4 separate regions of the Homo sapiens genome follow, and regions 2, 3 and 4 are each reported to be linked to region 1. The links are microRNA targets in miRTarBase. Many come from high-throughput screens and were not tested one by one. Region 1 holds a microRNA gene; each other region holds the end of a gene's coding sequence.
The links. Region 1 holds the annotated microRNA hsa-miR-378c (ACUGGACUUGGAGUCAGAAGAGUGG, at 1,966-1,990, opposite strand). A microRNA usually pairs through its seed, bases 2 to 8, with sites in the 3' UTR of a target mRNA and lowers its output. Matches are read on the target gene's strand: a 7mer-m8 pairs with bases 2 to 8, a 7mer-A1 pairs with bases 2 to 7 and ends in A, and an 8mer does both.

Region 1 (5,641 bases):
GGAGTAGACGTGGTGGCCTGTGGACCAAAGCCTCAAAGCCAATTTGCCTGTGGCCGAGAATTGTGCCTCCAAGACCTGTTCTTGCACTGTGTCCTCGGGTTCTGTCCCAGAGGCTAAGGCTGGGTATTGGGGGCAGATGGTGGCAATGCCATCTTCTGGAAGGCATGTGGCATGATGCACTTACCTTGACTCACTTTGTGATGCTCACGTTTGGCCTTGGCGGGAGTTCAGTCAGATTCTGAGCTTCTGCTGAGGCCCAATGTCACTGTGTAGCCACTTCCTCTTCTTCCGATTGAGGCCTTAGCTGGGCCCCCTCTCTCTGAGGGGTTCACACAGAACACAGTCTGTCCCCCCAAAACCTGATCCTCCCACATCCTGAAGCAGGGGTATCAGTGGGGGAATGCATGGCAAAGCTAATCATCTGATTTTTATATTTCTAAAGCTGGGGAGCACCTCAAACTTTCCAGCAGACCCAGCTAGCTGGTAATGGCACTTGACTTTGCCATGGCCTTATAGCTCATCTCTGTCTTTCAGCAGATGTGACACAAGTCAAGTCAGCATCTGTCCACCCTGGTTGTCTTTACAGAGCTGGTCAGTGGTGGGTGCCAGGGGCAGGCCTCTGTTTTCACCCTGTTTCTCCCCTGAAGCCATGTGAGTTGGCATGAACATACAAGAATAGAGGTCTGAGAGTGTCCCTGTCCTGGTCGTGACCTCAGTCCACTTTTCTAGCTGGCTCCTTTATTTGGACAATGATCATTTCTCAAAATCCAGGTGAGACATGACAATCCCATCACGTTTCATCATGATGCAATGGCAGGAATTCTGGAAAACCCCAGTGAGACTGATTCACTTTCTAACCCATGTTTCTCATTTCAGGTAGAGAGAGCCACAGCTTGCCCATCAGCACAATGGTGAGAATTAACTAAACATGTGTATCTTGAGGTACATCTGGGAGGTGGGTGACAATGCAAAAGACCCTATCAGGAGACACCCAGACACTTAGAATCTGTCTTGAGGGTCACAACCAGTGTGAGTGGATGTGATAAATGCAGGTGCAGCTTAGATGATAAATACCTTAGGCAGTCCCCCAAGGAAGAGACCAGTGCATGTGCAGATAGCTCGGGGAAGAGAAAGTCTGGGGTGGGGTGGGGGTCTTTCTGCACAGTGCTCTGGCTGTGGAGCTGGAATACCAGGATTGCTCCCACTGGAGACAGAGGCACTTTGTCATGGCACCTTGCATGAGTGGATGTGGGCATAACCACCTTCCTTGAAAGGGGGGTTGAGATTCAGAGGCAGACACTGAGCCCCTCCTTGGCCCCTCCTATCTGCCCTCCTCCTATGAGCATGAGCAGCTTCTACCCCATCTCTGTGTGCCTCGCAGGTTCACAGCTTCCTCAGCTCCCATCTCTCGTCTTGGAGGTTGTCTTCTGTGCTCCCTCATCTCGCCTCCTTTGTGTGCTCATTGACATCTCTGCGGACAGAGTGTCAGTCCTGTCCCTCCAAGCCCTTCCTGAGACCCCAGTACCACTCCCTCTTCCCTGAGACCAGGGTCCTCCTCTCCTGGGCACACCTGCTCCTCCCCTCTCAATGCAGCTGGGGGAACTGGAACCTCTTGGTTGCAAACAGCATTGGCTGATGCTGCACCCATGGGCCTGGGCATCCTCGAGGGCCAGGAAGCTGAGTAGTGGGAGTACCCACGGGGTGAGTGGAGCCAACATTCACCCTTGCCCGAGGCTCTGATCTCGGCAATGGGAACCCCCGCTGGTCTTGGAGGAGAGGCCACCAAGAGATGAAATCACTCGTGCTTGGTGGCATGGTGGCATCTGCGGTGCTCACTTTTCCATACTTGCTGTCTTCCCTGGTTTCATCCTCCCAGGGCAGTTACTTTTTATCCTCACCATGCATGAACGTTTGAGTTTGAGGCACTCACCACCTTCAAAGTCAGAGTTGAAGTCTGACCCGACTCCACTCTTCTGACTCCAAGTCCAGTGATGGCCTCCGAGTGGAGGGTGGAGGATTCCGTGGGTGGCCCTGGGAGCTACAGCAGGAGGGGAGGCTCCTGCACTGAGGAGCAGTAAGGCTCAGGGGTGGCCGTGTACACTGAGACGGGAGCTCCCAGGGCAGCCCAGAGGGAAGTGACCACCTCACGTGGTGACCTCATGTGAGGGACTGGTTTCCCTAGAAGCAGAGCTGGAAACAAGGGCTCTGGTTCAAGCGCATAAGGCAGTGTCTCAGGAGAAACCCTTGACGGAGGGAGAGAAGCAGTGAAAATAAGAGAGGAAGCTGAAGAATGCAGCTTAGGGTCAAGGGCAGCCTCAATCTGCCCCGCGGGGACCCTGGATCATCCACATTGCTGTGGCGTCTGCCCTACCTGAATGCTCTGGGCCACCCTGGTTGGGCTGGGGTGTCCTGTCATCCACAAGCCTTCAGGCAAGGCAGCTCCAGCCTCCCAGGGCAGCCTCGGTGGAGGCTGCAGGTGCGAGCTGTTAGCAGCATCCTTCACCAGGAAGCAGCTGGCAAAGAAGATCCTTGGGTCCCCAGCAGGGCCCAGCAGGGTCCATCCATGGGCGAAGAGAAGACTAGAAGGCTCCACATCCCCACCTCCAGCTCTGGGCAGACGGGCAGCTGGGCCAGGCAGAGCTAGGAAGCTATGAAGGGCGTTATTTATTTTAAGTTTGGACACGTTTAGGTTAGAAGATGAATTGTCGGCAGGGCGCGGTGGCTCACTCAGCACTTTGGGAGGCTGAGGCGGGCGGATCATGAGGTCAGGAGATGGAGACCATCCTGGCTAACACGGTGAAACCTGTCTCTGCTAAAAATAAACATAAAAAAAATGTAAAATAAAAATAAAAATTAGCCGGGCGTAGTGGCAGGTGCCTGTAGTCCCAGCTACTCGGGAGGCTGAGGCAAGAGAATGGCGTGAACCCGGGAGGCGGAGCTTGCAGTGAGCCAAGATGGCGCCACTGGACTCCAGCCTGGGGGACAAAGCGAGACTCTGTCTCTGTCTCAAAAAAAAAAAAAAAAAAAAAAAAAAAGAGAGAGAGAGAGAAGATGAATTGTCTCCCAGTCAACCAGAAATCCAGGTTACCAAAGGCAATGGATGGAACCAGAGAGGAAGCCTTAATGTAGAACTGAAGGGGGGCAACCCAGGGTGCAGTTGAGTGACTCAAGAGAAGAGGGGGAAGGCCCTGCGAGGGCTGAGCCAGCCATGGAGAGGAAGGCCTGGCTAGGAGGCAGAATGGGCAGGAGCTCAGGCCACTGAAGAGGAGCCGTCCCCTGGCTGATCCCAGTGATGCAGAGAAGCCAGGGAGGGAGGGAGAACGGGGAGATGACCCCCATCTCCAGGAGAGATACTCCTCTGGGGAGAGGGCTGGTGCCACTTTCCCTCTAATGCTATAAAATAGGGAGCCTCACTGGGCCATGGGCCATGCAGATCTCTAGCCAAAAGTGAGTTCGGATGTGGCTATTGGTAGTGGGGGACTTGGAAGTTGTTAGGGGACCAGAAAAGGCTGGGTGTACTGGTCCTAGGTAAGGAGTATGTTTGTCACATGAAGGGGACTACCCGTCAGCCCAGTGCAGAGGTAGGAGCCTGCAGAGTGAGACTGGGCAAGGGGAGGGCTGGAGATTGCAGGAGAAAGAGCCACTAAGTCAGCGAGAGCATGCACGGTGAGGAAGAAGGAAGCCTTGCGGGGAACAGCCCAGCTGGCCTCGCCAGGAAGGCCCTTCCGCGTTTCCTCCTGCTGATTCACAACCAGGAGTAGGAAAGTGCAGGGGGCAGAGGGCCGCACCTCAGCGTGACCACCATCCATCTGTCCTTCCTGGCGGCTCCATGCTCCGGGGAGACGTCTGTAAGCATTAGCCCATGAGGAGGAAAGGAGACGATATATTCACAGACACTTTGGGAATAAAAGTGCTCCATAAATACAAAGAGTTAGCACCATGTCAAGGCAGAATTTATTTCAGAAACACAGCCTGATGCTCTGGGATGCTGAAATGCCAGGGCACCACACCATCTTGGTGATATGTTTGTCATTTGAATAGGTACATCTCTGCTTCCCCCATGCCGGCCAGGCCCAGAAGGAGACAGAAATAAATCAGCGGAAATTATCTATTTTCTACAGTGTCAAAACAACACTTTCTATGTTGGAGTTGGGAGAAAACCAATTCACCTCTTTTCCCAACCAGCAGAAACACGTTGCATCTCCCGAGTGTCCCAGGGAGAAGAAAGAAGAGAAACAAGAGAAGGTGGAGCCCGGGTACTGGGGGCTTCCGCTGAAGAGCACCTTTCCCACCGCACCTTAACCCCGGGATCTAGAGGACTCCTGGGAAAATGGTTCTGCAGCTTACCATCCATCTAGGGAACATTTCCAGGAGACTCACGAACCCACTGACCTTCCCTGCACCCAGCTACCTGCCCCTTTGAAGGGCGCCCAGCAGGCTGGCCTCCAGGTCCCCATCCTGTAAACCAAACTCCTGGGGTCTGGGTCTTTTCTTCGTGTACCATGACTCATTTACTTGATCCAATTCCTCCTTTTCTTTTTTCTTTTTTTGAGATGGAGTTTCACTCTTGTTGCCCAGGCTGGAGTGCAATGGCACGATCTTGGCTCACTGCAACCTCCACCTCCCAGGTTCAAGCAATTCTCCTGCCTCGCCTCCCAAGTAGCTGGAATTACAGGCGCCTGCCACCATGCCCAACAAATTTTTGTGTTTTTAGTAGAGAGGGGTTTCATCATGTTGGCCAGGCTGGTCTCAAACTGCTGACCTCAGGTGATTCACCTGCCTTGTTCTCCCAAAATGCTGAGATTATAGGCGTGAGCCACTGCAACTAGCCCCAGTTCATCCTTTTCAACTCTTAGTACAACTGCACAGAGATGTGTCATCCTGGAAAGGGACTGACATTCTCATGGCAGACAGCTGAGACATCAGCAGGAAAACACTGACCAAGGAGACCAGAGACACAGGTCCTGGTCAAGTCCTGGCTCAGTGAATTCACTGGAAAATGTGAGTTGGAAATATTTGCCTTGCAGATCTGGAGTTACTAATAGAATCAAGTGGTAATGTTTAATTAAATCTCCTGCAAACTGTGAGGGTGGTATCTACTCTTATTTGATTGAAGTATCTTCTACATAGTGGTGGCTCATGCCTGTAATCCTAGGAGTTCGAGACCAGCCTGGCCAACATGGTGAGACCCTGTCTCTAATAAAAATACAAAAAATTAGCCAGGTGCAGTGGTTCATGCCTGTAATCTGAGCAACTCGGGAGGCTGAGGTGGGAGGATCGCTTGAACCTAGGAGGTCGAGGCTGTAGTGACCCAAGATCACACCACTGAACTTCAGCCTGGGCAACAGAGCAAGACCTTGTTTTAAAAAAAAAGAGAGAGAGAAATATCTTCTACATATGATTACATCTCTCAACTAATATCTTGTCCTCATCCTCAAGGTTAAAACCAATGGATATCTGAAAAACAGACTCAGATTATCTGTGTTAATGCACCTGCCTCTCATCTGCCTTCAAACCGCACTTGCCAGGTTGCTCAGTTATTTCACCTTTATTGTTGCTGCTTTGGACCACAAAAGGGCTCTGAGGTCCATCTCTGTCTATTGCAAGGGCATCCTCTGGACCATGAGTGGCATGCCAGTTT
Region 2 (5,641 bases), not on the chromosome of region 1:
TTCCATCTCAGCCCTTAGACCCTTCCAATTGGGCATGGAACTCTACCTTCACTGAGAGTTCTACCAGTGACTTCCAAATGCAAGATACTCAGTGGGAGAGGCTGGTGGCCTCGGTTCCTGCTTTGTACTCTGATGCCTATGACATATTCCAAATCATAGAACTGTACAATCTTCCTGATGAGAATGAGATATCCAGCTCTTCTTTCCACTGTCTGTATCAGTATCTCTCACCCACAAAGTACCAGGTAGGAGGACAGGGTTCCTCTCTCAGCATCTTTGCTGGTCCAGCTGTAGGCCTATCTCCTGCACAAACCTGGCCCAATATGACAAGCCAAGCCTTTGAAGCCTACAGTCTAACAGATAGCCTGGAATTCCAGAAAACCTCCAATATGGTAGACTTGGGATTTCTCTGACCAGAGTACTAATAAATATAGATCATTTAGAAAAGTGGTCTTCTTGCCTCTTGTACATGACTGTTTTTTTCCTTTGTCTCATTTTAACCCAACATCTGGGTCTGTGTCTCTGATTTCCATGTAAATGTTGCAAAAAGAGTTTTCCAAGTAGAGCTGGGCACTACGTAATCAGCCCCACAAGTCTCCCTGAGAAGCCTGCCTAGTCCCTTTCATGGCCAATGAGACTCCAAAATTCCCTTCCCAAAACTATCTTGGATTTTCTAAAAGTAGGACAGTGGTTTTGGGGGTTATCCACTTTTATTTTTTTGAAACTAGCTCTCATTCTGTCACCCAGGCTGGAATACAGTGGTACAGTCACGGCTCACAAAAGCCTTGACCTCCTGGGCTCAGGTGATCCTCCCACCTCAGCCTCCTGAGTAGCTAGGACTACAGATGCTCGCCACCACACCTGGCTAATTTTTTTTTTTTGAGACTGAGTCTCGCACTGTCACCCAGGGTGGAGTGCAGTGGCGGGATCTCAGCTCAGTGCAACCTCCACCTCCTGGGGTTCAAGTGATTCTCCTGTGTCAGCCTCCTGAGTAGCTGGGATTACAGGCGTGTGCCACCATGCCTGGCTAACTTTTGTATTTTTAGTAGAGACGGGGTTTCACCACGTTGCCCAGGCTGGTCTTGAACTCCTGACCTCCAGTGATCCGCCTGCCTTGACCTCCCAAAGTGCTGGGATTACAGACATGAGCCACCGAGCCTGGCCAATTTTTGTGTTTTTTGTAGAGACGAGGTTTTGCCATGTTGCCCAGGCTGGTCTCCAACTCCTGGACTTAACGCCATCCACCTGCCACAGCCTCCCAAAGTGCTAGGAATACAGGAGTGCACCATCGCACCCGGCTGGGTTATCTAGTTTAAAAACACTTTTTTTCAAGGAAACCGAAGAAACCATCATCCACTTTTCTCTCTGTATCATTCTGATTTTAGTATATGTGTTGTGGAAGTGAGTACACTATCATCCACTTTTAATGACAGAAAGTTATAAACTTACATTTTGTTTCCAATTTTTCATTTTTTGTTTGTTATTTGTTTTTTGTAGACAGCACTCTGTCACCCAGGCTGGAGTGCAGTGGCACCATCTTGGCTCACTGCAGCCTCTGCCTCCTGGGCTCAAACAGTCCTCCCACCTCAGCCTTCTGAGTAGCTGAGACTACAGACATGCGCCACCATGTCTGGCTAATTTTTGTATTTTTAGTGGAGATGGGGTTTCGCCTTGTTGCCCAGGCTGAATTTGGGTTTTTTTAAAATGAGACTTTCAGTCCTAATTTGAGGGGAAATTACTGTCACCACTAGTTTTAATATAGTACAATGAAAAAATAATATATATATATATAGTACAATGGTCCAGACATAATAAGAGGTGTAAAAACTATCACAGGAAGAAATAAAAACAGATTTTTGAAGGTGAGATGATAAACTTGCAAAACTCACAAAATAAAGAGTCAAACTTTTAGAATGACAAGTTAGCATATTTTCCAGCCACATGATCAACCTACAAAATTAATACCATTTCTGAACACCAGTAATAAAGAAACATAAGGGCTGGGGGTGGTGGCTCATGCCTGTAATCCCAGCACTTTGGGAGGCCGAGGCGGGCGGATCACGAGGTCAGGAGATTGAGACCAGCCTGACTAACATGGTGAAATCCCGTCTCTACTAAAAATACAAAAAAAAAAAAAAAAAAAAGCCAGGCATGGTGGCACACACCTGTAATCCCAGCTACTCGGGAGGCTGAGGAAGGAGAATTGCTTGAACCTGGGAGGTGGAGGTTGCAGTGAGCTGAGGTCGCACCACTGCACTCCAGCCTGGACAACAGAGCAAGACTCTGTCTCAAAAAAAAAATAAAAAATAAAAAATAAAAAATAAAAGAAACATAAGATAAGTACCTCTCAATGAAAAATGTAAAAGTACCTAGAAATTCACAAAAAAATTAATACCTCTGTGGAGAAAACTTCAAAACTTAAAAAAGGACATAGAAAATGTTTTGAATAGGCCAGGCGCAGTGGCTCACACCTGTAATCCCAGCACGTTGGGAGGCCAAGGCGGGCAGATCACGAGGTCAAGAGATCAAGACCATCCTGGCCAACATGGTGAAATCCTGCCTCTACTAAAAATACAAAAAAAAAAAAAAATTAGCTGGGCATGGTGGCACACACCTGTAGTCCCAGCTACTTGGGAGGCTGAGGCAGGAGAATCACAAGGATTGAAACTATGCAGTGTGTTCTCCAAACATGATGGAACGAAATTAGAAATCAATAAAATTTGGGAAATTCACAAATATGTGGATATTAAACAACACATTCCTAAATAACCAGTGGTTAAAGAGGTAATCACAGTCTGAGCAACATGGCAAAACCCTGTGTCTACAAAAAATAAAAAATTAGCTGGGCATGACGGCCAGAGCCCATGGTCCCAGCTACTCGAGAGGCTGAGGTAAGAGCATCCCTTGAGCCACAGAGGTCGAGGCTGCAGTGAGCTGTGACTGTGCCACTGCACTCCAGCTTGAGCAACACAGTGATACTGTCTCAATAAATAAATAAATAGAAGAAATCATGAGTAAAATTGGAAAACACTTTTAACTGAAAAAAACAAAAGCACAACAAACCAAAACATGGGATGAAGCTAAATCAATGCTTAGAAGGAAATTTATAGCTTCAAATACTTATATACATATTTTTTAAAAGTAGCTTTACATAGGAAGGAAGTGGCATAGTTTTATCAATATCTGTCAAATTAAACTTCAAGGCAAAACTTTTTTATTGAGATGGAGTCTTGCTCTGTCACCCAGGCCGTGCAATCTCGGCTCACTGCAACCTCCGCCTCCTGGGTCAAATGATTCTCCTGCTTTAGCCTCCCAAGTAGCTGGGACTACAGGTGTACGCCACCACACCCAGCTAATTTTTGTATTTTTAGTAGGGACAGGTTTTGCCATGTTGCCCAGGCTGGCCTCAAACTCCTGAGCTCAAGTGATCCTCCCGTCTCAGCCTCCCAAAGGGCTGAGATTACAGGTGTGAGCTACCTCACCTGGCCAAAACAGTTTTTTTAGAAATGAAGTATATTAGACAACAACAAAAGGAACAACTAACCTGAAATATATAATAACTTTGAACTTAAATATACTTAACAACATATACCAAAAATATATGAGGCAAATTTTAGCAAAAATTAAAATTCTTAAGAAAACTTCACTAATATATAGTCATAATGTGGTATATTCATAGAACATTCTCAATAATTGATAATAACAGTCCAAAGAAAGCAGAAAGAAGGAAAGCCTAGAACAGAAATAAATGAAATAGAGAATAGAAAAGCAATACAGAAAAAAAATTATGAAATCAAAAGCTGGTTCTTTGAAAAGATCTACAAAATGGCAAACATTTAGCTAGATTGACCACCCCCTCAAAAGACTCAAATTACTAGAATCAGAAACAAAAGTCAAGATTTTATTACCAAACTTATAGAAATAAAAATTATTAGAAAGAAATACTATGAACAATTGAATGCCAACAAATTAGATAAATGAAATGGACAAATTCCTAGGAAGACACAGAATACCAAATCTGACTCCACAAGAAATAGATGTTGTGAATAGAGCTTGCTATGGTATGAATGTGTCCCCCACAGCTCATGCGTTGGAAACTTAATCCCCAAAGCAACAGCTTTGAGAGGTGAGACCTTTAAGGGTTACTAGGCAGAGCCCCCATGAATGGATTAATGCCATTATTGTGGGAGTGGGTTAGTTATCTCAGAAGTGGGTTCCTGATAAAAGGATGAGTTCGGCCTTCTTCTTCCCCAAAATCTTTATCCCCACCCCCACCTCTATCTTTCTCTCTCTCTCTTACCTCCTCCTCTCCCTTCCTTCTGCCATGGGAGGATGAAACATGAAGGCCCTGGCCAGGTGTGGCCCCTCCATCTTCCGTCTGAGACTGGAAGACTTCCCAGCCTTCAGAACTGTAAGAAATAAATCTCTCTTCATAAATTACCCAGTCTCAGGTATTCTGTTATAACAACACAAAAACAGACTGAGACAGAGTTATAACAAGCACAGAGATTGAGTTAACAATTGAAAACTTCCCACAAAGAAAAGCCCAGTCCCAGATGGCTTCACTGCTAAATTCTACCAAAATGTTTAAAGAAGAATTAACACCAATCCTTCATAAACTTTTCCAAAAAAAACAAAAGAGGAGGGAACTCATTTTATGAGATCGATATTATCTGGATACCAAAGCTGAACAAAGACGCCATAAGGGAACTACAGATTATAGTGAGTATCCCCTATTGGAAATGCTTGGAACCAGAAGCGTTTCAGATTTGGAGTTTTTGGAATATTTGCACATACATAATGAGATATCTTGGGGATGGGACACCAGCCTAAACACAACTCATTTATGTTTCATATACACCTTATATACATAGCCTGAAGGTAATTGCACAATATTTTAAGTAACTCTGTGGATGAAACAAAGTTTCGAGTGCGTTTTGACTATGACCCACCATATGAGGCCAAGTGTGGAACTTTCCTCTTGTGGTGTCACATCAGCACTCAAATAATTTTGGATTTTAAAGCATTTTGGAATTCAGATTTCAGATTGGGGATACTCAACCTGTAATACCTCTTCTGAATATAGACGCAAAAATCCTCAATAAGATCCTTTTGTAGTTCATGAATGTGATGATTGGGCATTCACGTGGATGTGTGAGTGCTACCCTCGAAGCTTGTTTCAACATTGGCACATTATGCATCTGACTTGAAAAAACAAATTCTCAATAAAATACTAACAAACTAAATTTAGCAACATATAAAAAGGATAGATACCATGACCAAGTAGGGTTTATTCAGGAATGGAAGATTGATTCAACATAAAAAAATTCATCAATGTAATACACGATATTAATAGAATAAAGGACAAAAACCACATGATCATCTTGCTGGGCACAGAAAAAGCATTTGATGAAGATCCACACTCTTTCTTGATTCACTCAACAAACTAGAACAAACTATCAAACTCCTCTCCTTCAACTTGATAAAGGCCATCTACAAAAATCCACAGGTAACATTGTACTTATTGGTGGAAGACTGAATGCTTCCCCCCTAAGATCAGGAACAAGTGAAGTGTGGCCACTCTCACCACTCTTGTTAAACATAGTGCTGGAAGTTCTAGGCAGGGAAAAACAGCAAGAAA
Region 3 (5,641 bases), not on the chromosome of region 1:
GGGCACAGTGGGATATGCCTGTAATCCCAGCTACTGAGGAGGCTGATGCGGGAGGATCACTGGAGCCCAGGAGTTTGAGACCAGCCTGGGCAACATAGCAAGACCGCATTTCCAAAAAAAAAAAAAAAAAACAGAAGATACAATTAGCGTATACATCTAGATGAGTATATATTAAAACATTTTTTAAAAATGAGATCAAAATAGGCCAGGCATGGTGGCTCACGCCTGTAATCCCAGCACTTTGGGAGGCTGAGGCGGGCAGATCACCTGAGGTCAGGAGTTTGAGACCAGCCTGGCCAACATGGCAAAACCCCGTCTCTACTAAAAATACAAAAATTAGCTGGGCATGGTGGCACACGGCTGTAGTCCTAGCTACTCAGGAGGCTGAGGCAGGAGAATCGCTTGAACCCGGGAGGCGGAGGTTGCAGTGAGTCGAGATCGCACCACTGTACTCCAGCCTGGGTGACAGAGTGAGACTCCATCTCAAAAAAAAAAAATCCAAATAAAGTCTTCTGTAAAGTATGGACACCTATGCCAAGTAATGACATAGTAAAAAACTACAGGTTTTATAGTTTTAAGAGATGACAGGATTATAAAAAGCAGGTAAGAATTAGTAAATTTGGGCCCTTCCTTTGAGATATTATGATTAAGAATCTTTAATCTCCTTTTTGTGCATAGGAGAATTTTTTAAAGGTCTGAAGCTCTCTTAAGTGGAGAGAGAAATTAGCATTTCAGTTTGGAGAGGAAATCGGGCTGCTTTTCTGTAAGAAAATACCTGGCTTATACATGTATAATTCATAAATAACTTATTTATGTAAATCATTTTGTTGTGGTTGTACTTGATAACTGTTGCTTGGTTCAAGAAACTTTCTAGAAATGCTAAATGGTTTATATATTTTTATAATGTTTGTTTCAAATTCCACTTAAATATCTGGGTTTAATGTTTATGGAGGATCTCATGGGAAGTTATCCCTTAATTTAATTCTTTCTCTTGGTTCACTTTTGTTTCAGCTTTCACCAACAATCACCAGTGGTTTACACAACATTGCAAGGAGCATTGAAACTCGAAACTACTCAGAAGGATTGACCATGCATACCCACATAGTTAGCACCAGCAACTTCAGTGAGACCTCTGCTTTCATGCCAGTTCTCAAAGTTGTTCTCACCCAGGCCAATAAGCTGGGTGTCTAAAAGGACAGCTTCTCTTCCACTCAATATTGCCATTTTTCCAAAGAAACATGTTAAAAAAAAAAATTATAAGACATGGACTAGTCCTCATTAGCATGTTTGCATAGCAACCAGTCAAGAGCATTTACACTATTTCTGCTGATATACTCACCTTAGAACTGCTCAGAACCCTGGTGCTTTATTTTTGTTTTAATCTTTTGTTGCCAGTGATGATTTTCCTATTCTGCAAATAGTGTATTTCCTGGATTACACATAGTATGGTTTCCTGAAGTATTCTGATAAATGTGTTTTTTAAAACCTCAATATACTTTTTAGAAAAGGAGCATCTGGTTATGCATAAAGCAGAGCTAAAACTAAATTTCTTTCATGTCCTCCCTACTTCCTCAGTGTCAATCAGATTAAAGTGTGTAATCCTATTTTATGTGTGTATAGTCTTTTTTGAAACAGCTGCTTAAAATTTAGTTTATTTTTTGTGTCTTAGGATTCCTGAGTAAATAACTACATCTACAAACTGCTACATGGGTTTTAGCAGATATTAATAAAAATGGGATCACTGGCTTTAACTATATAGGAAAAGACTGGACATTTTTGTTCTGTAGAATGCATTGAGCTTTTTTCTATTTGTAAATGTTTCAATATTCTGTTTGAGTTTTAAGACTAAATTGTGTCCATTTTATAGCTAGAAATTTTTTCACCTATTTTGTTTAAATTACCTATAGCTGTGCCAGGCATGGTGGCTCACGCTTGTAATCCCAGCACTTTGAGAGGCCGAAGCAGGCAGAGGTCGGGAGTTCGAGACCAGACTGGCCAACATGGAGAAACCCTGTCTCTACTAAAAGTACAGAATTAGCCGGGCGTGGTGGCGCATGCCTATAATCCCAGCTACTTGGGTGGCTGAGGCAGGAGAATTGCTTGAACCCGGGAGGCGGAGGTTGCGGTGAGCCGAGATCACGCCATTGCTGTCCAGTCTGGGCAATAAGAGCAAAACTCTTTCTCAAAAAAAAAAAAAAAAATTACCTGTAGCTTTGAGGTTTAAGTTCAGAAAGAAAGCTTTAATTTCAGTCAGCCTGTAAATCAAAGCCACACATTTTGCACCCAGTTTTTCTGTCAAGTGACTTTATTATCATCTGTCTTAAGAACAGTGTGGTAAGGCCGGGCGCGGTGGCTCACGCCTGTAATCCCAGCACTTTCAGAGGCCAAGGCAGGCGGATGACCTGAGGTCAGGAGTTCAAGACCAGCCTGACCAACATGGAGGAACCCCATCTCTACTAAAAATACAAAATTAGCCAGCCAGACGTGGTGGCACATGCCTGTAATCCCAGCTACTCGGGCGGCTGAGGCAGGAGAATCGCTTGAACCTGGGAGGCGGAGGTTGCAGTGAACCGAGATCGCACCATTGCACTCCAGCCTGGGCAACAGCCTCCATCTCAAAATAAATAAATAAATAAAAGAACAGTGTGGTAAACAAAAAATTAATGGTCCCTGTAGAATCTGGAGAAGAGTTAGATAATAATTTTCATAGTTTATGCAATATTCCTTAAGAGGGTTAAAAAACTAGAAAATAAACACTGTGGAGTAAGTTAAGTCAATTTTCTTCAGCCTGAGTGAAATAGTTTGCAAGAACCTCTTGATTCTATTTGCCAAGATTCCCTACTCAACAAATACATGCTGCATTTTAAAAAATTACCCTGGCTGGGTGCAGTGGCTCACACCTGTAATCCCTGCACTTTGGGAGAAGAGGCAGGAGGATCACTTGAGCCCAGGAGTTCAAGACTAGCCTGGGCTGTAGTGAGACCGTGTCTCTACTAAAAATAAAAAAAATTAGCCCGATGTGGTGACACATGCCTGTGGTCCCAGCTACTTGGGAGGCTGAGGCGGGAGGATCCCTTGAGCCCCAGAGGTCAAGGCTGCAGTGAGCTGTAATTGTGCCACTTCACTCCAGCCTGGGTGACAGACACCCTGTCCCAAAAAAGAAAGAAAAAAAAAAAAAAGAGTACCTTGATAGCATGTACATATGTTGGAGTCTCAGGAATGGACTATCTAGACTTATAAATGGATATATTGTCACCTAGCTCATTGGTTTCCTATGCACTTGATAGTGTGAGTCACACGCCTGTAATCCCAGCACTTTGGGAGGCCAAGGCAGGTGGATCTCGAGGTCAGGAGTTCAAGACCAGCCTGGCCAAGATGGTGAAACCGCGTCTCTACTAAAAATACAAAAACATTAGCCGGAGTGGTGGCAGGCGCTTGTAATCCCAGCTACTCGGGAGGCTGAGGCAGAGAATTGCTTGAACCCAGGAGGCGGAGATTGCAGTGAGCCAAGATCGTGCCACTGCACTCCAGCCTGGGCAACAGAGCGAGACTCCGTCTCAAAAATAAATAAATAAATAAAAATAAAAAGATAGTGTGAGTCAGTTCCACTACTCGTTGAAGTGACAAAGTGACCCTCTGGATTTGACCCTGAACAGTAGTATCAGCCCAAGACCATCTGCAGAGTGGACTGGCTTCAAGTTTTTTTTTTTAATTAATCACCCTTATAGTTAGAATTTGTTTTGCAGTTGCATGTTTATCTTGACATGACAATGGCATATTTGGTGTCATTCTACCAAAAAAAAACTATTTTCCAAAAGATGAGAAACGAGTAGGTGGCAGTGGAGCCCTGGCCAACCCAAAGATTTATTTAAGAATATGAGTGTATAGGCCGGGCGCGGTGGCTCACGCCTGTAATCCCAGCACTTTGGGAAGCTGAGGCGGGCAGATCACGAGGTCAGGAGATCGAGACCATCTGACTAACATGGTGAAACCCCGCCTCTACTAAAAATACAAAAAATTAGCCGGGCGTGGTGGCAGGTGTCTGTAGTCCCAGCTACTCTGGAGGCTGAGGCAGGAGAATGGCGTGAACCTAGGAGGCGGAGCTTGCAGTGAGCAGAGATCGCGCCTCTGCACTGCAGTCTGGGCGACAGTGCAAGACTCCATCTCAAAGAAAAAAAAATGAGTATGAGTGTATAAAACTACCTGCCACTGGTAGCAGGGCACCTGCTCTCTCCTTTTTCATTACATTGTGATTTTTTTTTCCACTTGCAGCCATTTCTCTATGTGGCTTATAATCTTGGAAGAGTTTCATATAAATGAATGGAGGTGAGATGAGCCAAACTCAAATTGTTTTTGTCTCTGAAATATGAAGATAATAGGCAATTAGAGAAAGTTTTTCTTCAGAAAAGACAACTTTTAAGAAGTTTTCTTTTTTAAAAAATGGAAAAAAAAGTCAACTTGATTTTGTAAATAATTCTATTTTTAATGTTTTCAACGTGGATGGCATTAGAGTATATGCCTGCACAATTCAGGAACCTCTGTTTAAGGCTGTTCTTATATAAAGATTTCACGGATCATACAAGTCTTTGTTGTGACATTTTGGAAAGTTAGAGCTGTATTTTCTACCCTTGTCATTACTTCATATATAGTGGCCAGTAATGCTTTCTGAATGCCAGGTCTGTTCAATTTACTTTTTATGATGTGTGCTTTTTTTTTAAAACCTACTTAATTTTAAAACAAGGGAAGGAATGTGAGGAAAGCTGGTGGGTGAGGCCGGGTGTTGGCCAGGAACTGTATCAGAGTCTCTGGAGGTGGTGCTTTTTATATTACTTCTGGTCCTCTTCTCCCTTCTTTATACCACCCTTTGGGTTTGATGGGATGGATGTACCCTTAGGCTGCACTTGAGAATCATTATGTGTAATCAGAGATAGAGTCAGTGGAGGTAGTTGTTCATTGGAGCAGTGTGGGGCAGGAAAAAGTTGGGAACAGAACTGCTCTATACCCAACTGTTGAGAGTCCAGTGAACCTATATATTCTTTGGATTCAGAAAATTGTCATGTATCCTGGAGGACAGGAAGATGCCATAGGATCCCTGGCGACCAGATGTACTTTGATGGCTCATGCCTGTAATTGCAACATTTTGTGAGGCTGAGGCAGGAGGATTGCTTGAGCCCAGGAGTTCAAGACCAGCTTGTGCAACATAATGAGACCCCATCGCTACAAAATAAATTTTTTTAAATTAGCCAGTCATGGTGGCACATGCCTATAGTTCCAGCTACTCAAGAGGCTGAGGTGGGAGGATCACTTGAGCTCAGGAGGTTGAGGCTGCAATGAGCTGTGATCATGCCACTGCACTCCAGCCTGGATGACAGAGAGAAATCCTCTCTCAAAAGAAGTGGGGGAGGGAGGGATGACACGTTTTTGATAACCACTTAACACCTGACCATATTTGGATTCACCTAAGAGTGAATGTGAAGCCATTTGTTGACTCTTCTGCCACAGTGGAGACTTCATTTGGAATTGTCATGAAGTTTCAGCCAATAGTGTATGCATATGTATATATATACACACACACAAACATACAGATTCCCCCCCACCCCTTTGTTTTGTTCCACTGCTATGGTAGCAGCATCCTCAAGTA
Region 4 (5,641 bases), not on the chromosome of region 1:
TGTGGCTAGTGGCTAATATAATGGACAATGAAGTCCTGGACCCTTCACTTACAAGCTGAGTGGTCTTGGACAAGTAATTTAAGCATTCTGAGTCTGCTCACTTCCCTTTAAAATGGAGTTATATTCTTTTAAAAACCTACATCCTAGGATTAAATATGAGATTAAATAAATCAAAAGAGAACAGTGTCTGGTAGATGCTCAGAATACTGTAGTTATCAATACTGCATTATCATGTTAGGGAGTGGGTCATTCAACTAGCCACTGTTCTCTTTTACTTTGAATTTTCATTGGTGGACTTCAGTAAAGCTTAAAATGAACTTTTTCCCTATAATAACTTCTGTCAGTCCCGTAACCAAAAGGTTAACATATAGAGTTATAGAATATTCTCAGGAATTACTGATGTCCTGATCAATTTATGAGATAAGGGTCTGGAGGTTTTATACATTTAGTATCAAGATGGAGAAATATGAGCCCAGGTTATAGTCTGGAGGTTAAAAGTTCATTACAAGATTGCCAAGAAACCAAAAACAGAACAGGCTTGGAAATATTGTTAAGCCTGCCTGCCATTTACTCTGCCAATTACAGAAGAAACACTAAGCAAAGTACCTTTTCACGTGTCTATTCACTTAACTACAACAAGGGCACTAAAACACACAGACAAAACGCTATAGAGCAGGGATTGTCATCTTCATTTTAAAGAAACAGAGGCCCAGAGTTGCTGACAAATTTGCCAAAGTTGGTAAGGCTGTTAGGTGGCTCTTTTCATCTCTCTGATTCTATAATACCTTCTATTCTTACTCATCAATTAAATATAATGTGGGTTGGGGTGATAGCTCTGGGACTAGCCAGGCTGCACAGAAGCATGAACTAATGGGTTTAGAGTGACAAACTTCCTCTCTCTATGAGTTTACTATGAAAGATCAAACACAGATGAGACTGCAGAAAAGGGAACCATTTTCTCTTCTATCTCAATACTCGAATTGATGGTTTGTTTCTAGATGGTGTTTAGACAACACAACAGGCACACACTAGTTCTTTCACTAGACAAAGCAAGACAACCAGATTGAGTCACAATTACTTTTTTTATTAATCCTATTTATTAAGAGATTGGCAACTCGTTTGAGGAGTCTGGTCTTGTAGGTAGCAGCCAAAAAAATTGGAGGAAATAGGGTGGGTTTTTTTGTTTGTGGTGCAGTGGTACCAGTGAAACTGACAGGCAAGTAGCTGATCCCAAACAACCAACCCCAGAAAGCACGTGGCTCTTGTTATATCTGGCTGGCTCAGCAACTATCCAAGTTATGGGGCTACAGGGGATACTGTCTAGACCAGTTCTTTTGGCCCTGGCGTTGGCAGAACATAGAACCAGAAAGCCAAAGCATGGTGCAAACATCTCTCTGCATTTTTTCTGGTCGGCAGTCAAGCTGGATGGAAACTAAATCTCAAACAATTACCAAATAGCAATAAATAAGGGAATAAAAAGACGGCACAGGGATTTCTTCTATCCTTGATGGATATGGCCTGACTCTTGTGCTTTAAAGCATGACTTCTGAAGTGACTGTCCTTAAGGGAGAAAGCACAGAGGGCAATCGGAAAGGTGGTATGACTTTTCCAGCTTGAGATAGTCTTATTGCATCACAGGTGTTTTCTAGACTCGATGATGGTACTGATAGGAAAAAGACATCCACATATCATCGAAATAATTTATTTACCACTAGAGCACCACAAAAACAGACATACATCGTGTTAAAATACAGCGTAATTGGTCATCAAAATACAAAACAGCTAATCTTATATTCCATTTTTTAACCATGCCAACGATCAAATTGTACTGCTGATTAACACAAAAATAATTGCTGCCCACTTGCATACTAGCACTTCACCCCTTCCTTGCCACCTCCACCCCCCTCCCATGGCAATATTTACTTATGGGAAATAAAGACCTTACAGAACCCCCAAATTAAAAAAAAAAAAAACAGATTCAAGAGATCTTAAAATAGAGCATTTAAAATATTATCAGTGCATTCATGAGGAAAGACAAAATAATACAAAACAAAATGTCATCCTATCTGAGAGGAAAATGTCTGCAGAAATAAAAGTGATTTACACATAATAGAAAAGTGGAAGACAAAAAAATAATCAACACACACTCAAATCTGGGATTGGGTTACATCCAACACAAGGGCTGTTTACTATTATGGCATCCCATCTCTTGCTTTTCCAGTTTTCAAACTTGCAAATCCAATTCTTTAATTAATGGTCAGGAAATTCCAAAAAAGAAGTAGACCATATCAAACAACTTCACTTTGGATTCCCGCCTCCTTATGCTGCTCTTTAGGTGAAACTGCAAATATTCCATTGCTTTGCCTATTAATTTTTATTTTAAAGCTAAATAAGCGACAAGTGATAAACTGACATATTCTATTAACCCCAGCATGAGGATACCTCTTCTGCAATGATGTGGCAAATTATTTATTAAAGCAAGGTAAACTTTAGCCTCAGATATAGATAACTCTCACTCAGAGGAAAGAAAGAATTTTTTGATCATAGGAAAAATTGGCTTGTGCCTTTTCCCCTTCAAAGAACATTTATAAAAACCTTATAACTTCAGTGAAATACACAAAATGACTTATGCTGACCTGGACTTTTTTCCCCTTTTGAAAAATCGACTAAAATATATATCTTTCAATTTCCCCCTGAATATTAAAAACCTGACTAAAGAAAAAGATGTTTCCTATGAAGTGTCCTCTTTGTAATAACAATAGGATTTTACAAAAATATTGATTAAACCAAGGTAGAGAAACTTTTCTTAACTCAATAAAGATTCTGAGTTTTAGTTAGAACCCTAAATCCTTGCTAAAATGAAAACATTTTACTTCAATTTTCTATGTATCTATAACATTCCTCCTTTTCCTAACATAAAAATTTGTTAACGTCTGACTTGGTTAGTAATGATGCTTGGAAGATGAAGACCACTGAACTCGAACCCATCTTTTCTGTGAAACAAAAAAAAGAAAAGACAAGTGGACCCAGGTAGCTTATGTCATAATAATGAAAGAAACACAAAGCACAAGTAGGGCAAATGTTATTAAAAAAAAAATGCATTTGTAGTGCAAGTCAAACTATAGGGGCTTTACTCAAAAGTACTGGCCAGCTAAAAGAAACATACATTTGTGAGTGATCATTAAAAAGAGCCCAAATTTAAGTCAATCTAAATCATAGTTGACATTATTACAGAATATAAAAAATATGGTAAAAATTTACACATTACACATAAAGTAGTTAATGTTTTGATTTAATAGTTTGCAAAAGAGATCTGCAGATGTGTTTTCAATTATGCTGGCTTCTATATCCATCTATTTTAATAATATAGGTATGGTTACATATACCAAAACAAAGGAAAAAACCTATAGCATAGCTATACAGCAATATTTTAAGGTCTGAAGTTTGACCAGTACATGTCAAAACATTTCAACATTTCACTGGTTTACTAAACTGACAAAGAACCATTTACAATTAAAAAGAAAAAAAAAAACTTACAGACTTATTCTGACTGAAAGTTTCTTTTATTAACAGTCTTTTTAGTTTTTGGACCTTACAAGAAGCTTCCTTAGGCAGCTGATACATAACATGTGTTTTCAGGGTCTTTATCTTAATGCAGACTTTCTCGGTCATATAATAACTCACTTGGGTTTTCATCCCATTAATATGACCTCTTTTTTTCTGGCTCGTTTGAGTTCAAGTTCCTTAAGCCATCCATGAGTTTCTGGCAAAGTATTTGGTCTCCACTTTATACACCTGTTTTATTTTCCAAGGGCAATGAAACGTTCATTATATAGTAACACACAATAAATAACTCACTGTTAACTCTAAGAGTAAGAATGGGAAGGGTGCCTATTGCATAGCAATACAGAAAAATCAAGTGAGGCGCGGGATAGGAACGGTACGTACAGCAACTCCACTTAATGGGATTTTCCTGTTTGTTGTTGTTGTTGTTGTTGTCGTTGTTCACATAATTAACACTAATAAATTCTTCCAGTGTTTATTTTTTTCTTTAAAAAAAATTTGCTTCTTGTCTCTCTCACTTACAAAGTAGGTGAAATGTAGAATAAGGCCTTCAACTTTTTTTGTGTCAGATGCCAGTTTTAACAAACAGAACACAAACTTCCAAAGTGTCTGAACTAGTACCGCCTTTTCAAAAATTTTTTAACACTGATGAACCAAGGCTCTCTTATGTTTTCTTGTTACAAGCATCATCGTTGTCGTCGTCATCATCATTATCATCATCATTGTCATTTTGGTCTTGCCACTTTTCCAAGAATTTTAGCTGCATTTGCAAGACTTTACAATCATATTAGAAAGCTGTTCAATCTTGGGTGTTTTGCCAATGTAGTAGAGAATGGTTAGAGGTTCTAAATCTTGGGACACGCAGCAAGGAGAAGCAGATGCTTCTGGATTTATGGTATTATATAAGCTCAGGACCTGAAAGGACACAGGAGAGGAGAGACAACATAGGGAAAGACGGAAAATGAACGCAATTCGTTTTTAAAAAGAATTCCACATTGTTAGCAGTCACAGCACTGAGTAGGCAATTTAAAATTATTTTTGGTTGCTAATTTCCTAAATTACAGTCAAACTGATATGTGACCTTAGCAATCACCAAAGTCATTATTTTCCCACACGGAACTCGTTTTCCACACATCTTAAGCAAATGATTCTGTAAGAGTCAGATTGGAAAAAATTGCTCATTCAACAGATTTTCCCGGTTTTTCCAGTAAGTCTTTCCTCTGATCAGTGCTTGGCTGCACATACATCCTAGGTCCCCACAAAACTTGATCCTTATAGCATTTGGTCTTATTTCTACACTACTCTGTAAATGAAGTTGTTTCTTGAGTATACATTTCAATCCCATCTAGATTAAGAGCTCCCTCCAGATCAGGAACTCTACAGACTTTGCTTTTATCTTGTGGCCCTAGTAAGTCTTCTCTGGACAAAATGAGATTCATGTACTAAGTGAAGAAATGAATACATGAATAAGTAGAAGAATAAAAAGTTTTATCAAAGCTCTCATAAGAGCTTTAATCTACCTTTGGGTATAGAAAAAGACACCTGTATGCAATGTGAAATCTTTCTACAGGCTGGGCACGGTGGCTCACGCCTGTAATCCCAACACTTTGAAGGATCACTTGAGTGTAGGAGTTCAGGACCAGCTTGGACAACAGACCCAGACCCTGTTTCTTTAAATAAATAAATAAGGAAGGAAGGAAATGAAATCTTTCTACGTTAAGTGTCTCCTCAGGCCAATTTAAGGTATCCTCAATTTTCATTAAAAAAAAAAAAGCCTGTTTTTTTACCATTGCTTCATAAACACAGTGATGCTAGAAATGACATAAAAGTGATCTCTAAGATCTCCTATAAGAAATAATTATTCACTTTCTTACATTTTGCTTAAAACGATCATAATCATAATCACAATCATAATCAACCCTCCACTAACCTATGCGGTAAATGGTAGTTGCTGAGTTGGAGGAGTTAATGGCAAGTCTGAAAACAGAATGAAGAGACGGTTCTATAATTAGCCTTACACCTTCAACCCCATTCTGTATCAGAGGGGTGTGAGACTTTTACTAATGGAAGTATGTAG

Region 2: miRTarBase lists ARGFX as a target of hsa-miR-378c. Seed matches in the 3' UTR shown: 7mer-A1 at 1,801-1,807.
Region 3: miRTarBase lists SEC31A as a target of hsa-miR-378c. The part of its 3' UTR that is shown has no 7-base or 8-base seed match.
Region 4: miRTarBase lists TGFB2 as a target of hsa-miR-378c. Seed matches in the 3' UTR shown: 7mer-m8 at 2,637-2,643.

Annotation. Positions count from the first base shown.
Region 1 is chr10:130,960,669-130,966,309 of GRCh38, forward strand. It overlaps MIR378C (microRNA 378c), which reads right to left and starts at 2,000; the gene lies at 1,920-2,000.
Region 2 is chr3:121,586,188-121,591,828 of GRCh38, forward strand. ARGFX (arginine-fifty homeobox) reads left to right here. Exons shown (of 5, transcript NM_001012659.2): 5 at 1-4,435. The coding sequence ends at 413. LOC124906360 (small nucleolar RNA U13) reads left to right here and starts at 5,107; the gene lies at 5,107-5,207.
Region 3 is chr4:82,814,624-82,820,264 of GRCh38, reverse strand. SEC31A (SEC31 homolog A, COPII component) reads left to right here. Exons shown (of 27, transcript NM_001077207.4): 27 at 1,012-1,756. The coding sequence ends at 1,191. Among named protein-coding and RNA genes, the nearest start is that of SCD5, 19 kb to the right of the region's middle.
Region 4 is chr1:218,440,042-218,445,682 of GRCh38, reverse strand. TGFB2 (transforming growth factor beta 2) reads right to left here. Exons shown (of 7, transcript NM_003238.6): 7 at 1,064-4,479. The coding sequence ends at 4,321. TGFB2-OT1 (TGFB2 overlapping transcript 1) reads right to left here and starts at 3,057. Exons shown (of 1, transcript NR_125715.1): 1 at 1,688-3,057.